Linked DNA regions of Homo sapiens: region 2 is linked to region 1. A link means that fine-mapping ties the variant in region 1 to the expression of a gene that starts in the linked region. Tissue or cell type: whole blood. Region 1 holds a variant in brackets; the other region holds the start of a gene. All regions are shown on one strand. Distances are from middle to middle.

Evidence for each region. PIP is the estimated chance that this variant, and not a neighbour inherited with it, causes the effect.
Region 2: it holds the start of ASAH1, and the variant in region 1 is fine-mapped to the expression of ASAH1 in whole blood (TOPMed, PIP above 0.99).

The regions. Positions count from the first base shown.
Region 1 is chr8:17,745,721-17,753,826 of GRCh38, forward strand. MTUS1 (microtubule associated scaffold protein 1) reads right to left here. Exons shown (of 15, transcript NM_001363059.2): 2 at 7,997-8,106. It also overlaps the pseudogene RNA5SP256. Among named protein-coding and RNA genes, the nearest start is that of MTUS1, 51 kb to the right of the region's middle. The variant A/T (reference allele first, on the strand shown) is at 3,586.
Region 2 is chr8:18,080,690-18,088,795 of GRCh38, forward strand. It overlaps ASAH1 (N-acylsphingosine amidohydrolase 1), which reads right to left and starts at 3,418. Exons shown (of 14, transcript NM_177924.5): 1 at 3,292-3,418. The coding sequence starts at 3,369. It overlaps ASAH1-AS1 (ASAH1 antisense RNA 1), which reads left to right and starts at 4,179. Exons shown (of 5, transcript NR_125429.1): 1 at 4,179-4,250; 2 at 4,553-4,796; 3 at 6,194-6,247; 4 at 6,336-6,448. It also overlaps the pseudogene MRPS18CP3. RefSeq lists enhancers at 2,875-2,984, 3,785-4,064, 3,865-4,400 and a silencer at 3,335-3,534.

The DNA.
Region 1 (8,106 bases):
TTCTCTGGTTTCCTGACAAAGCTCTTTCCTGGTTTTCCTTCTACCTGTCCGGTTATTCCTTTTCTGGGTCCTATTCTTCTGTACCTTTGGAAGCTAGTGATATAATTTGGATCTGTGTCCCCACCCAAATCTCACATCGAATTGTAATCCCCAGTGCTGGAGGAGGGACCTGGTGGGAGGTAACTGGATCATAGAAGCAGACTTCCCCCTTGCTGTTCTTATGACAGTGAGTTCTTACAAGATCTGGTTGTTTAAAAGGGTGTGTCACCTGCCCCCTCACTCTCTTCCTCCTCCTCCAGTCATACAAGACATTGCAGCCTTGCTTCCTGTACAGCCTGTGGAACTGTGAGTCAATTAAACCTCTTTTCTTTATAAATTACCCAGTCTCAGGTAGTTCTTTATATAGCAATGTGAGAACAGACTGATACAGCTAGTCTTCATGAAGACCTAGCCTTGGCCCTGTTCTCTTTCCTCACCATGTACTCTTCCTACATGATCTTGGCTGCTGTTTCAATTGCCACGTGTACACTGGTACATCCAAATCCACATGTTCAACCAGTACTCTCTCCTGAGTTTCCCATATACCTAACTTCTTTCTATACATCCCAACTCAGCATCCTTCAAGCACCTCTACGTATTAGTCCATTTTCACAACGCTGATAAAGTCACACCTGAGACTGGGTAATTTATAAAGAAAAAGCAGTTTAATGGGCTCAGAGTTCCACGTGGCTAGGGAGGCTTCACAATCATGGCAGAAGGTGAAAGGTTCATCTTACAAGGCAGCAGACAAGAGAGAATAAAAGCCAAGGGAAAGCAGTTTCCCCTTATAAAACCATCAGATCTCATGAGACTTACTCACTACCACAAGAACAGTATGGGGGAAACCACCCCCATGATGCAATTATCTCCCACCAGGTCCCTCCCACAATATGTGGGAATTACAGGAGCTACAATTCAAGATGAGATTTGGGTGGGGACACAGCCAAACCATATGACTCTACTTAACTTACTAACATATAGCCCGTATAGAATACTATTCTAAATTCTAAGTATATGTATCAATTCACTTAACCCTCATAATAATCCTGTGAAGTTGGTAGGTTTATTGTACCCCATTTTAAAGAACAAGAACATGAAGCATTTTCTAAAATTAATCTTACTTTCCTATCTATCTCAAAACTTATCTCTTCCTGTATTCACCACAACATACCCAGGCACCCAACTTCAACAATGAAAGCTGTTTCTCTTTTCCATCTGCTGTCATTTCTCAGCAAGATTACTGAAACGATGTCCACAGGATCTTTCTGGTCTCTCCAGCTTTCAATTCATCTTTTATCTGCCTGCTAGGGCAATCTCTCTCAAACTCGAATAGGGTTAGACACCTTCTGTCTGTCTTCCAGATAACATCTTCTTCACAAGGCCCAGCAATCCTTTTGCATATGGAAGCCCCTGCCATCCTCTTCACCTTATTCCCTACTGCTCAGGGTTCCATTCTCCCAGCTCCCACCACACCTACCTAGAGTCCCCTAAATTAGAAAATCTTCTCATATTTCTTCAGCTTTGTACTCTACCCAGAATACCTGCCCTTCAAATTCCAGCTAGTGACAACATGTGATGTCCCCTATAAGCCTTCCTTGACAACTCTGCCCACCACCACATCTTGTTCCCCCTCCTGCAGCACAGCAGTCTACTCACACTCCCAACTTAGCAATCAACATACCCTTGCCTGTTTACTGTATTGATAGAGGCAGGAGGCAGAGAAATTCTAGGCAGACGGGGGCAGGTCCCCAGCAAAACCCCACCTTCAAGGCAAAAACCCTGAAACCCACAGCCTAAAGTGAGAACTTCTAAACCTGTTTGCCCACTCTCTCCTAATTAGTTCTTTCTGAATAATGTCTTTTTACCAATTGAAAGTTGCCTTTTCCAAAACTACCTATGGCCTGCCTTGCCCCCCACATCCCATTCATGTAAAGACCCCAGACTCACTTGGTAGGGGAGACAAGCGGCTTGACTGATGTATTAGTCCATTTTTACGCTGCTTATAAAGACGTACATGAGACTGGGCAACTTACAAAAGAAAGAGGTTTAATTGGACTTAAGAGTTCCACGTGGCTGGGGAAGCCTCACAATCATGGCAGAGGGCAAGGAGGAGCAAGACATGTCTTACATGGATGGCAGCAGGCAAAGAGAGCTCATGCAAGAAAACTCTCCCTTATAATAACCATCAGATCTTGTGAGACTTAATCACTATTATGAGAACAGCATGGCAAAGACCTGCCCCCCCATTATTCAATTCCCTCCCACTGGGTCCTTCCCACAACATGTGGGAACTCAATACAAGATTTGGGTGGGGACACAGCCAAATCATATCAACTGGAGACTTCAGAGGACAGCTGAGTCTACTGTCATATCACCCTGAACACACCCAATCTCGCCTGATCTTTGAAGCTAAGCAGGGTCAGGCCTGGTTAGTACTTGGATGGCAGACAGACAGCTGGACTTTGGAGGAGAGATGGCTTAGCTTTGGAGAAGAGCCAAGTGTAGATGGCCAGACTTTAGGGAAGATTATCTGCCCGTCCTGTCCCGTCTTCAGCTACCCTCTCTGCTGAGAGCCACTTTCATTGCTAAATAAAATTATCTGCCTCCACCATCCTTCAGGTGTCCATGTGACCCAATTCTTCTTGGACAGTGGACAAGAGCTTGGGACCCACCAACTTTGGGTACCCAAAAAAGGTTATCACACTGACCCTTTGCCCTCGCTACTGGAGGGCAGCTGCCCCACACAGTGAGGCAAAGGGCCCACTGAGCTGATGACACACCGGTGTCCATGGATGGTGGAGCCAAGAGAGCACTGTAGCATGCCCTCTGGGGCTTTAGGGTCACAGACACCACCACCTGGGCACCACTGTGGGGCCTGCACACAGCATGCTCCTGCCGGTGCTCAAAGTGGCTGGCTGGATCCTGTACTCACTTGCCCACACACTCCTGCCCGCAAGAGGTTGAGCATGGCGGGCTGAATGGGGCACCCCCATCGCAAGTTTTACAAATGGGTTGAGAAAAACTCCTGCAACAGTATTACCCACTGCACTAGGCACTCAGACAGGGTCTCTTTTTTCCCTACATCCTAACAATCATCACCATATGTATAATACATAGTATGCACCCAATAAATGTTTCTATTCTACATAGAGGAAATGGGAGTCTGAGCCTTACTCACAGTGTGAATTCCAACACCAAACTACAATTTGCAATTCTCCCTTTACATTAATGTAAAGCAAAAATAAAATTCTAAGCCCCCCAACCATCTGAAGGGACCACTTCTCTCGGCCAAGGGCATTCCAAGGTTAACCTGAAAAACTAGTTCAGGATATGAAAGGAAGGGGGAGTCAGACATAATTATACTCTCCGAAGGGTTGGAATTCAGGCACAGCTGACCAGCATTAACATCAACAAAGACCTTAAGACTGATAGAACAGACTCTTTTAAGTCTGATAAGCAACATTTACAATCAACTCCCCCTGAAGCCGGCTACCTGAAGGTTTCATCTGTATGATAAAACCTTGGTTTCCACAGCTCCTTATCTTA[A/T]CCCAGACATTCCTTTTTGTTGATTCCAGGTCTTTAACTCTTTGAACCAACTGCCAATTAGAAAATCTTTAGGCTGGGGGTGGTGGCTCAAACCTGTAATCCCAGCACTTTGAGAAGCCGAGGTGGGCAGATCACATGAGGCCAGGAGTTCGAGACCGGCCTGGCCAACATGAGGAAAGCCAGTCTCTACTAAAAATACAAAAAAATTAGCTGGGTGTGGTGGTCCTCACCTGTAATCCCAGCTACTCAAAAGGCTGAGGCAAGAGAATCACTTGAACCCGGGAGGCAGAGGCTGCAGTGAGCCGAGAGATCACACCACTGCACCCCCAGCCTGGGCAACAGAGAATCTGTCTCAAAAAAAAAAAAAAAAAAAGAAAGAAAAAGAAAGAAAATCTTTAAATCTGCCTGTGACCTGGAAGCTGCCTCCACTTCCAGTTGTCTCTCCTTTCTAGACAGAACCACTGTATACCTTACATGTACTGATTGACGTCTTATGTCTCCCTAAAATGTGTAAAAGCAAGCTGTACCTCGATCACCTTAGGCCCATCTTCTCAGGATCTCCTAAGGGCTGTGTCATGGGCCACTGGTCACTCATGTTTGGCTCAGAATAAATCTCTTCAAATATATTACAGAGTTTGACCCTTTTTTTGACACAAAGAACAACTGAGCTCAATAGAGACTTAGTAACCTGCCAGAGGTCACTTTGCCCAGTAAATGGTGGAGCTACAATTTGAAACTACTCTAAAATCCGTGCTTGTAAAGCAGCATGTTCCCTGTCATCACTCTTCTTTCTTTAATAAATCTCAAGTGTTAATTTCCGATAGATACACATAAAGCCCAATGCCGATGGCAGTCGAATTCATACATTAGGTGAATTCAACAATAACTTAGCAGGCCAATCACCCATGAGAACAGCTGGAGGTCATGTTTTGGCACTGGAGAACAATACAGAATTGGCCAAGAAAAGCAAGTGACTGTACACAAACTAACAAAGATCTTCTGTCTCTGGCTAGGTTAAATTAAAGCTGGCTAAATTCATCTCCCAGAGAAAAATCTTCTTTTAAAAAGCAACCCAAAAGTTAACCTCCCAGAGAAAACCTTCTTTTAAAAAGTAAGGCAAACTGCTCATCAATTTACAAAAGTGAATCTTCAGCAAATCACTTGTTTTGCCTTTCAGAGCCAACATTCCAAAAATTTTGAAACCGTATGGTGTATGGAGCAGAAAAGGCCAGGATTCAAGTGAGGGCTCTGAGTGTGAATCCCAATTTTACTATTTACCAGCTGTGTGAGTTTTAAGTGACCTCGCTGAAGTATTAAAATGTCGACAACAATTGCCCTGTTGTTATTGGGAAGAGTAAATAACAATGTATGGAAAGCACCTGAGCGTTACAGGGCCCATTAAATGGCATAATATAACTAAGGCACCTGAGCAAAGTGCCTGACCCAGAGCAAGCACTGAATAAATATCAATTCCTTTCCTTTTAGGTTAAGTCTCCACTCCCTTTATCTCACACACTATCATGAACACATAACCTCTGTTGTGAGGAGCTACATCTAGCCCCGTTTCAAATAAAAATCAAGTTCCTTCTTCCAAATAAGAACTTTTCTAAAGATTCAGATACACCCTGACCACCAATGAGCTGTGAGGTTGCAGGCAGTCTAGGGATTCAGTAAACTCAAGGCCTAAGGCAGGCCAAGGCCAACAAAGCAACAGTAAAAATTAACATCCGACCGGGCGCGATGGCTCACGCCTGTAATCCCAGCACTTTGGGAGGCCAATGTGGGCGGATCACTTGAGGTCAGGAGTTCGAGACCAGCCTGGCCAACGTGGTGAAACCCCATCTCTAATAAAAATACAAAAAATTAGCCAGGCATGTGCACCTGTAGTCCCAGCTACTTGGGAGAAATGCGTGAACCTGGGAGGCAGAGGTTGCAGTGAGCCGAGATCGCGCCACTGCACTCCATCCTGGGTGAGAGAGGAGACTCCATCTCAAAGAAAAAGAAAATTAACATCCCTCCAGCATGGTCTCTTCGTCAATCCAGGGCAGTAAGAGCCTTTGAGTGCTGCTGAAGTGACCAACCGACATTCATGTTTCAGGAAAACACGCAGCAAATTCATTCAGCTCTCTACAGTAAGTGCAAAGCCAGTGGCCTATGAGGGTCTGCCCAGACACTTTCCAGTCCTCCTTCCCAGAGACATGGAAATGTGCAAGAGGTAAACTAGCAAAATTAGAGAGCACTGTGCTTCAGACATGATCGTGAAAAAAGAGTAGGCCGGGGGCAGTGGCTCACGCCTGTATTCCCAGCACTTTGGGAGGCCGAGGCAGGTGGATCATGAGGTCAAGAGATCAAGACCATCCTGGACAATATGGTGAAACCTCGTCTCTACTAAAAATACAAAAATTAGCTGGATGTGGTGGTGCACGCCTGTAGTCCCAGCTACCTGGGAGGCTGAGGCAGGAGAATTGCTTGAACCTGGGAGGCGGAGGTTGCAGTGAGCCGAGATCTTGCCACTGCACTCCAGCCTGGCGAAAGAGCAAGAACAAGACTCTGCCTTAAAAAAAAAAAAAAAAAAAAAAAAGAAAGCAAAAAAGAAAAAAGAGTCCCTTATGCCAGTTGATAAGCATATGCGAATATGGGACAATCTTTCAAGACTTACAAAGTATTTCATATCTAATTATGAATCCTAACAGCCAGATTCCTGAGGCGAAAAGTGCTGTTTCTCCAAGACATACTAGGATCCATTTCAACCTGATGATTCTATCCTTACCTCAGTACCACATCGGGAGCCTGAAAAACAGGTTTTCAAGCTGCACAGGGGCAACATAACCCTAAGACTCAATGCACAAATCAGGAAAACTTTTAGTTTCAAAATTACACAACCAATTTAAATTCAAGACAAATGTCATTAAAGAAAAAGAAACTTTATGATAGAGTTTTTGGTAGCTGGGGACTGACACACCAAAAAAAGTCTCCCATAAATCAAGAGAATAAACATCGTGTTTCTATGTATATCTGTAAATGCCAAACTAAGAATGTTGATTAGAATTAAGAGTATGTTGTAATTTAATTTTGCAAAAAAATTAAAATTATAAATGATATCGGTTTTCTAAGTTTGACTTCAAGATAACTTAAAAACTAAATCTGAGTTTTGAAACAACGGATGAACTCATTAGTTTAGAAATCACTGTGGTGTACCCTTCTTCCAAATAGAGAAGACTGGTTGTTAAAGCCCAAACATGTCTAAACTGATGTTTTAGAGAATCTAGAATATCTTCGGTCTTTCCTAACCTTGTCTTCTAAACGGACCTGACAATTCCCTCCCTTGTGGTCCCCATGCACCCTGAAGACACACCTAAGTCAGCCCTTCTGCACTTGCTATTCTATGTGCTTCATTCCTCTTGCCACGAGCCCTCCAAGGGACAGGCTGTCTGTGTCACACCTGCCTTTCTCCGCTGGCACTTAGCTCCCTTCCTGGCCCAGAGGACAGGCACCCAAGGACAGCCTGTCTGGGGCTGAAAATACACCTAAGTCCCCACTGCCAAAAATAGGGCTGAGGACACATGCCCAACGACCAACAGTGGCCTGTCAAATGTTTTTAAAACCCAGAAAACCAATTTCTACACACTATTCTCAAAAACACATGCATGTTTAAAGGAAAATCACCTTTACACTGCATGTGAATTCTTTATTCTTTAAACAGCACTCTCTAGGTCCCCCCCAAATATTTTAGACAGGCGCTATGGAAAACATACTGGTTTTTCACTATACATAAGTAAAAGATTTTATTTTATATACCAGGAATTAATATATTAAGGCTGCAAGAGGCTTCACACATCCACTAGGTCCAATCCTTTCATCTTTGGGTCTCGAAAAATTACTTGCCAAAAATCATTATTGGCCGGTCAGAGGAAAAATCAAGAACACTCTTGCTCATACAAGAGGGCTCTACTTCCCAGAGCTGCCTCCTCCGCAAGAGTCCAGGAGTTATTTTTATGTTGACATGTTTACCAGCACTCCCAAGCCCTTTCTTAAATGCTGTCCAATACATTTTAAAGTTGACAACCCAACTTTTTCAGAAAAATAAAATATAACCTGATTGTATCAGGCACTTAAACTACTAATTATACTAAAATATTAAAGTAACTTCATTTTTCAGCACACTATTAAAAGGAACGGTGATACTTGATACAAAATACTGAAATTGAGGATTTTTTTTTCCATATGCAGTTTTGTTGTATTGAAACCTATTAACACCCCAGTACTGACAAGACAATGAATTAACAACTAAATGTAAATCTGCCCACCTGGTTCTGCAATATTATTGACTAATAGATAACTAAATGCTAACACATCTCAGTTTTCTCCACAGTTCTCTGAAGCATGCAAAAAATATATATATATTACTTACCAAAAACAGAGAACCATATTCAAAAGTCTCATTCATAATCTCTTGTTTCAGCTCTTGTTTTTCCATAGATGTCCCATTTTCTTTTTCACCCTTCTTTTCAGGGCTAATCC
Region 2 (8,106 bases), 330 kb after region 1:
TGGGACTACAGGCGTGAGCCACTATGCCCAGCTAATTTTTGTATTTTTAGTAGAGACAGGGTTTCTCCATGTTGGCCAGGCTAGTCTCAAACTCCTGACCTCACGTGATCTGCCCACCTTGGCCTCCCAAAGTGCTGGGATTACAGGCATGAGCCACCGCGCCCGGCCTGTCCTGTTTTAACTTTGGCAATTTCTCCTCTTCTTGACACATACATGTGCAAGTTACTTAGCCTTTGCCTAGTTCTCTTTTCTTCTCTTTCTCTATCCTATTTCTAGGTAAGTTCATCTGCTCCAAGGGCTTCAAATATAATATCATTATGCCAGTGACTCTCAGTGTCTCTCTTCTGAGTGCCAGTCCGAGTGGCCTGCTGGATGCCTCTCTGCCACCTGAAATTTAACATACACCCCAAATGAAAACGATCCTCATTCTTTAGCCCCCAAGCTTTCCCCTCCCCATGTTTCCTGGAACGGATGCCACCATTCGCCCAGCGAAGCACTTCAGCAATGTGCAGGTCACGCTGACACCTCACTCCCTCATCCTCACCCAACGATTCCTTCAGCTCATTCGCCCTCCTGATTTTTTTCTAGAACATCTACTTCTCTCCCTCACCCCTGGCGCCACCATCCTTCAACGCACCCTGTTTTCTTTTCTGGACTAGTCTCCTCATATCTACCCTTGCTGACCTCCAATCCAGACTCATCTTTTTAAAGTGAAAATGTTATCTTGTCTAAAACCATCTAATGGCCTCCCATTGGCTGGTTCCAGATCCTCCCATTTTTTAGGATAAATTTCTGAATCCTTAATAAGAGTCTACAGAACCCTGGATGATGTCATCTGGCGCTATCTCTCCAGACATTTCTTGTGCCACTGTCTTCACCATCATCTCTTAATAGACTCCTAAAAAATTCAATAATGAAGAATAACTCAGGAGGACCTTCACATAGGAATATTGTGAAAAGCCTCAAAAACAAACACACAAAAAATCCTTACAGATGTTCTAAATCAAATGACTTGTTTCCAATTTAAAGCTGCTTCTCATTATTCATATTTATTGAAAGTACTTTTGAAATATCTTTTGTTACCATGAGGCTATAGTTTATCATATAATGACTCCAGTTGAAAAACTGCTTATTCTTCTCAGAGAATGAAGTCACTAAACTTCTGTAAGGTTCTAAAGGTCCTTCAGTGCATGGATCCCAGGATTTTCCAGGCCAGTAAAAAAAAATTAATGAGGCCTTGGCACAGGAGGGTCCAAATTTTTATTCTGCCAAATGGAGATGTTAAAACAAAACAAATTCCATGCACATAACATCTACCTCTGCCGTTATTTTTAAGAACACGTTTGCAACAATGAAAACTTGAAGTCCATACAATCAGAGTAAAGATTAACATTCTAAATTAATAATTTTAGTTTTGCATTCTTATTTTTCCAGTTTCATTGAAAACCTGTGAAAACAGCTTCCCAAAGTGACACCAGTGGCCAGACTAGACTTTGATAATCGCTGTTCTAGATAAGAACTATTATATCCATTGAGAGGTTGTTAATTCTTCTTCTGAAAATAGCTATCAAAATACTTTTGCTAGAATAAATAAAGCTATTGAGAAAGAAGAAAAAACAGCCTCCAACACCTGAAACTGCTCTGAGTCCCACAGCTATCTCTCAATATTATTACAAGCCGATCTGACACTCACAGCCAGGTAAGCTCTGTTTTCCTCCTGGACATCAACAATCCCACAGATACCTACGTCGGATAAGATTATTCTGAGACATGACACACCAAGACAAAGCAATGCCACTTGAAGATTTTCTCTAAGAACAGACAAAAACAAGGGCACCTGCAACGCACAAAACACCAAACATCCCCTTCTCGTGCTAAACAGAATGGCTGTTCCTTCTTTACTCAGTCAGAATTGCCCCACCTTCTAACAGCATTCTATCTACAGCAAAGCCCGGTTCCTCAGTCTTACCCCAAATCATGCAACCGAAGTTCAAATTCTGTAATGGGTTTTTTTCTATAACCTACCGTCCGTCGCTCATGGTGTGTGGTCTCCTTTGCCTCAAAGAACACTAAACCCAATTTGTTCAGCTTATGGTGTGTTCCTGGTGGTCTTTCAATGAAGGGCCCTGACAGTATCAAAGTATCAAAGTCTCTCCCAATTCCCATAAAACCAACTACCGTCAAGCAAATTAATTCCCTACCCACAATGGAGCAATTTTATTTTAAGGCCTTTAATCGTGTCCACATACATGTTCTGTGTATTTTCCTATTACAGGAAAAACTGTATATACTATTCTGGATTCTACTTTTATCTGCTGAACATTATATCAATTTTAATGGCTAAATCATATCCCACCATGATTTTAAAGAATTTCTCCTTACAGGTATAAAAGAAGACAATGCACATCTTGCTTCCACTTTCAATAACCTACCTAAACTATTCAAGACCATCACCATCTAGCCTCAGGCCAGATGCGCCAGGTTCCTACTTATCCGATTCTGTTGGCAAAGACAAACGCAGTCTGATTGCTTTATAAAGAAATGAATTATGAAAGAGTACTGGGCGTCAAGAGGCTCGGACGTTACGCATGTTCAGTAAACAACAGTGTAACCTCTGGCTAAATATTTTCTCACTCTAGGTCTACTTCCTCTTCTGTAAAATGAAAGAGTCACGCTCGTCCCTCACTGTCTCTTGCAGTTAGGAAGTCCGTAGCCCTGTGACTTGCTCGTGGGAAAGAGCCACGGGACAGGCGATCCCATGACTTGGGTGCAAAAGGCCACAGGGGGCCCTTTGGGGCCTGCTCTGGGCTGCTCGCACCGCCCAAGCTTGGGACCACTCAGCGTTTCCCACGGCCCTGCAGTATCCTGGGCTGAACTCCTGAACTTCTTCGGGAGAAAGCACCTGACCATCAGGCAGTCTGTCCTTGATTGAGTAATGCACACAGGTCCACCGGAACATTTTATTTAAACACTTCAAAATGCAAGGGCCTGGAACTGGTTATTCAAGTACACTCACTCAAATCTAAGAATGTGCGAATCACACCCAGGTATCCTGCAGAGACTAGGATTTCCTTTAAAGGAGTTCTAGTTGCAGGTAGCACCGAATCTACCGAGGACGGGGTTCGCCAGCCCGCTCTGCACCCACACCCCTGTGCACGAAACCACAGACCCCCGTAAAGAAGCTGCCCAGCACGAGGTGTTCCTTGTACCCGCTCGCGCCGCCACACCTGCGCCTCCATCCGCGCCCGCACCTGCACGCCCCTCTCTGCGCCTCGGCTCAAGCTCACTCACCGGCGGCGCGTGCTGCGCGACGGCACAGCTGACGGCGGCAGCCAGGAGGACTAAGGCGACGCAACTCCGGCCCGGCATCGCTCTAGCAGCCAACGCCACTCCCCGGACTCCAGCAGAGGCAAAGAAGAGCCGGCTGGGCCGGGGGCAGGCCACGCCCCCTCCGCCGCGTGACCCGCGACCTGGGACCGCACCATTCCAGGCAGTAGGGGGAACGCTCGGAGGAGGCGGGACTGGGAGGAGAGGACGGGGCTTTTCAGTGCCACGAAAAGGGTGGCGTAGAGAAAGAGAGAGAGCCTTCCAGGCTACCTGCAGAAGGAGAGTCGCGATCGCCTTTGGCGCGTGGCGTGATCCATCCCCCTCCCCCACCGCGGGCAATAGTCGGACCGAGCCGGAGCCCCGCCCCGTAGGTGGGGCCGGGAGCTTCACCCGTGGCGCCTCGATGGGGCGCCTCTAGCAGGCGGGTGCAGCCTGTCCCGCGTACCCAGGCGTCCTCGGTACCCACGAAACGGATCCAAAGAGTCTCAACACTAATGTAACATCCCACCCTGACCCATCTTTGCCCTCTGAGAAAAGCGGCCCGAAATGAGTTGAGTTATTCATCCCCACCGCGGAGTCAGGGACAAGGAGCAGTTGAGTGGCCGAGGAGTGAGAGAGAATCGAATCCACTCGGGTCCTCCAAGCTGTTGGTTACCCACTTGGGCTTTCACAGCAAAGCTGCCAAATCCCAGAATTGAGGCCTCGGTGAAAAGCGCGCTGAGACTTGGGTAGGAGGCCCGGTGGGACCCGCGAGCTTTCTCTCCCAGCCCGATGCAGCAGTTCATTAAGCGGCTGTGTTTCCTCCTAACTGGCGAAGGACTCAGGTGGGCGGAGCAGAGCTCAGCTTGGGAGGAGGCGGACGCGAGTAGCTCGGCAGGGGGACTCGCTTGGCTTTCGTGCCATCCGTGGACACAGTCGCGCGGGTAGGTGACCGGGTTGGATTTCAAAGTCCAGCAGGAAATCCTGCCCTCTGGGTTGCACTTCCTGGATGAGCCTCTGACGTCTCAAGCAGCATTGTTTTAATGCTTTGATGAAGCTCAGCACGCTGCCGAAATCTCGGCAGTATTTTTTCTTTTCTTTTTGCATGTGAGAGAAAGGACAACAAATTGCAGTTTTATCCATTTGTATTATTTCTTTAGAAAACTCAACACTCTTTTTGTTGGAGGTGGGGAAATGAGAAGGTGATGTTTTGTTTTGCTTTTTTTCCTATTTTTTTTTTTTAAAGGAGGAGAAGATGACAGTGTTCTCCCTAAGGATGAAGTTTGACTTTTGAAACATATCACATGCTTAAAGCACATTTGAGCTCCTGCATGAACAGTAAGCTAGCAGATGGTAGAAATATTCTTTATTAATTCAAAAAATATTTACTGCGGACCTACAATGTGCCAAGCATGTCTCCTGACACTGGGGATAAGCAGTGAACAACAACAAAAAGACAAACTTCTTCCACCCTGAGGCGTATGTTCTCGGTGAGAAATGGGCAATAAACATAATACCTAAGAAAATTATACGGGATGTTAGTGACAAATGCAGTGGAGGAAAAGGGAGGCCAGGGGCATCAAGTGTGGAGATCAGAAGTGGTAGAGTTACAATTTTAAATAAGAGGGACAGATAGACATGATTAAGGAGGTGAAGTTTGAGCAGACAGTTGAGGGAGACCAGGAAGCTAGTTTTGTGTGTGCCCAAGTAAGAGTATTCTAGGCAGAGACAGCAGCTGTTAAAAGGCTTTAAATGGAGAATGTGCCTGGCATGTTCAATTACAGCAGACGTGTGTGGGTCTGGCACAGAAAGAACAAGGGGAAAAGAAGAAAGAAGTATTAATAGACAAAGTATTTAGTTAAGGAGAGCAGGGCAAATTCTGTAAGGCATTCAGAGCCATTTCACTCCGGAAAAAAAATGTGTAATATTGAATATACGTGTTAAATGTTGAATCTATGGAATTACCTTGGAGCTTAAAATGAGTGTGCGAAGAAGAGGATTCCCATCTTTTAGTTGTTATTACTAAATCAAATAGCTACTTGATTGGAAGATCATTCATCTTCAGTACTCTTGAGAGCGATTTAAACATGTCACCAAGCATATTTTTTTCCCTACTGGAGGATGTTAATTGGTGATTAGGTAGTCTAGCAAAATCAGATTCTTTATGGAAAAAATTTGTCAATTGACATACTATTCTTAGGCACCACTTTCGCAGAACTATGCGTCTAACTTTCAAAGGTCTATTATATATTATTAATACTCTTTTCAGATAAAATATAAATCTAGTTCCCTAAAATTAAACCATTTCATGCATGTCTTTTTTTTCTTACACATATATCTTTATTTTGCCTACACCATTCTTTAATACTAGAAATGTACAGAAAGTCAAGGCAAGGTGTGTGTAGGAGACTTTGCAGTGGTTTTTGGCATACTGATCTGTTCATAGAAAATGGTATTTAAATGTGCAAATGCATGATTATGTCCACGGAAAGGGTGGTTCATACTGCACAAAAGCATCAAGTTTAAGACTTGGATAACCTGTTTCGTGTGCAAGAGTCGGGATATGTAATCAGATTGTTTATGGAATAGCTGAAGTTCTTGGCAAGCTGTGGACTTCCTCATCTCCTACCTAACATTCCTAGGTTCCTGAGGTGGAGCCTTGATTTAAAAGGGTTGCAACTTAGCCACCCCACCCTAAATGAAACCTATCATGTATAACATCACATTACCTGGAACAGGTTTGACTTGATTTAGTAAAACCGAATATACAAAAACGTGTACTAAAAGGTCAAGAGATAGAGAAATAATGTTTCAGTTTGAGAAATAAACATTTTTTTAACTTTAAATATTGACTTTTTTATGAATAAGGAAGCTTTTTATTTTACAGGTCTTTGTGGGAAGAAACAAATCACAAAAGCAATTAAGAGAGCTCAAACAATGGGTAAGAAAGAGCACCTCAACAACTGTATTGAGCTAGCTGAAATTTTGCTCATTATGCTTTGTCAAGAACTTTAATTATCTCTTTACAGGGTTTATGCCAGTTACATACAAGGATCCTGCATATTTCAGGGACCCTAAAGTTTATAACATCAGATATCCGGAATAAATTCCATCACATTACCACCAGTAAACTTATTTTATAGTAAGTGGTTGTATGACGCCAATACTGACTCAAACCAACCTTTGGATAGAAAAGTGTTTCAGGAGTGAGGTAAAGAATGACACTTCCCCTTCATACCAATCAGTGTTCATTAAGCAGATCGCTTATTTAAAATGTTAACACTCATCACATTTTACATATGTTGAATGAAAGTGGTTCTGGGTGATAGTCATTTATATCTGGTCCACAAATAGCTCATACAATGTAGTACACCATTCAACTGAATGGAGTTAAAACTGCTCAGAATGGTTTTCTAACTAGCAAATGTAAGTATGCCTGGTTAAGAGATCTTCCCTTTGTAGGAATGTTACACTGGGATGCATAGTGATGCTGTCACAGCAGGACAAAACATTCCTAGACAACTCTATCCTCAAACCAGTAGTGTCTTTTACATAAAAAGATGATTTACACCTAATAGACAGTGAATGTGATAGACATGTATGTATATATGTATCAGTTCTGAGTTCCACCAGCCTATCCCAAACACACTGGATTACCAGGCTTGTACTGTACTCAAAATTAAGGATTTGCTAAATTTCGTGCAAAGGACTCTAAACTAGGGGAGAGATTATTGTTTGTGTTGCGTTATAGTTGTGTAATAATTAAGGCTGCCAGATTTAGCAAGTACAAATGTAGGACAAATTTAAATTTTAGATCATGTTTTGCAAAGGTACTGCGTGAGATCCAGCATTTTATCTGGCAACACTAGCTGTAATGTACTTCTAAAAAATTATCACCTAAGGATAATTTTAATGACTCAGATAAATTTCATATAAATTTCTTTCCACATTGTGAAAATAAGGCTATTCTAGCTTTTCTAATACTTTTTTTTTTTTTTTAATAGAGATGGGTCTCACTGTGTTGCCCAGGCTGGTCTCTAACTCCTGGCCTCAATCATTCCTGCCTTGTCTTCCCTAAGTGCTGGGATTACAGCTGTGAGCCACTGTGCCTGGCCTCACTTTTCCAATTCTAAAGAATGTGTGTAAGCCTTTCCCTCAACAACTTATTGAAAGGCGAAAAAAGGTTTGGAAATAAAAGGATCTGATGTTTGAAAAAGTACTTTGTAAAATAAATGCACTAAGACTTATCTGTGGATTACTGCAAAGAGGTGAATATAGTAAAAACAAATGAACTTACCTGTATTACTGCAAGTAGCTCAACCTAGTAAAAACAATGGAAATGTTTGACTTTACCCATCAGCCAAATTAAAAAAATCTCCTTTTAAGGTTAAAAGGATCAAAATGTAGGTGACCGTGAATATTCACCAAAACCTTCATCTTTTCAATCTCTTCATCTGTTTCTGGGCTGCTCATTTTGGATGCTTTTTTATTGGTTACTACTATCAGTATCTGTTTTAGATGGTTTGTCTTGTGTGTCTAACAGCCGTGAACACTCTTTTTTTTTTTTTTTTTTCTCCTGAGTCGAAGTATTCCTCTGTAGCCCAGGCTGGAGTGCAGTGGCAGGATCTCAGCTCACTGCAAGCTCCGCCTTCTGGGTTCACACCATTCTCCTGCCTCAGCCTCCCAAGCAGCTGGGACTACAGGCACCTGCCACCACGCCGGGCTAATTTTTTGTATTTTAATAGAGACAGGGTTTCACCATGTTAGCCAGGATGGTCTCTGTCTCCTGACCTCCTGATC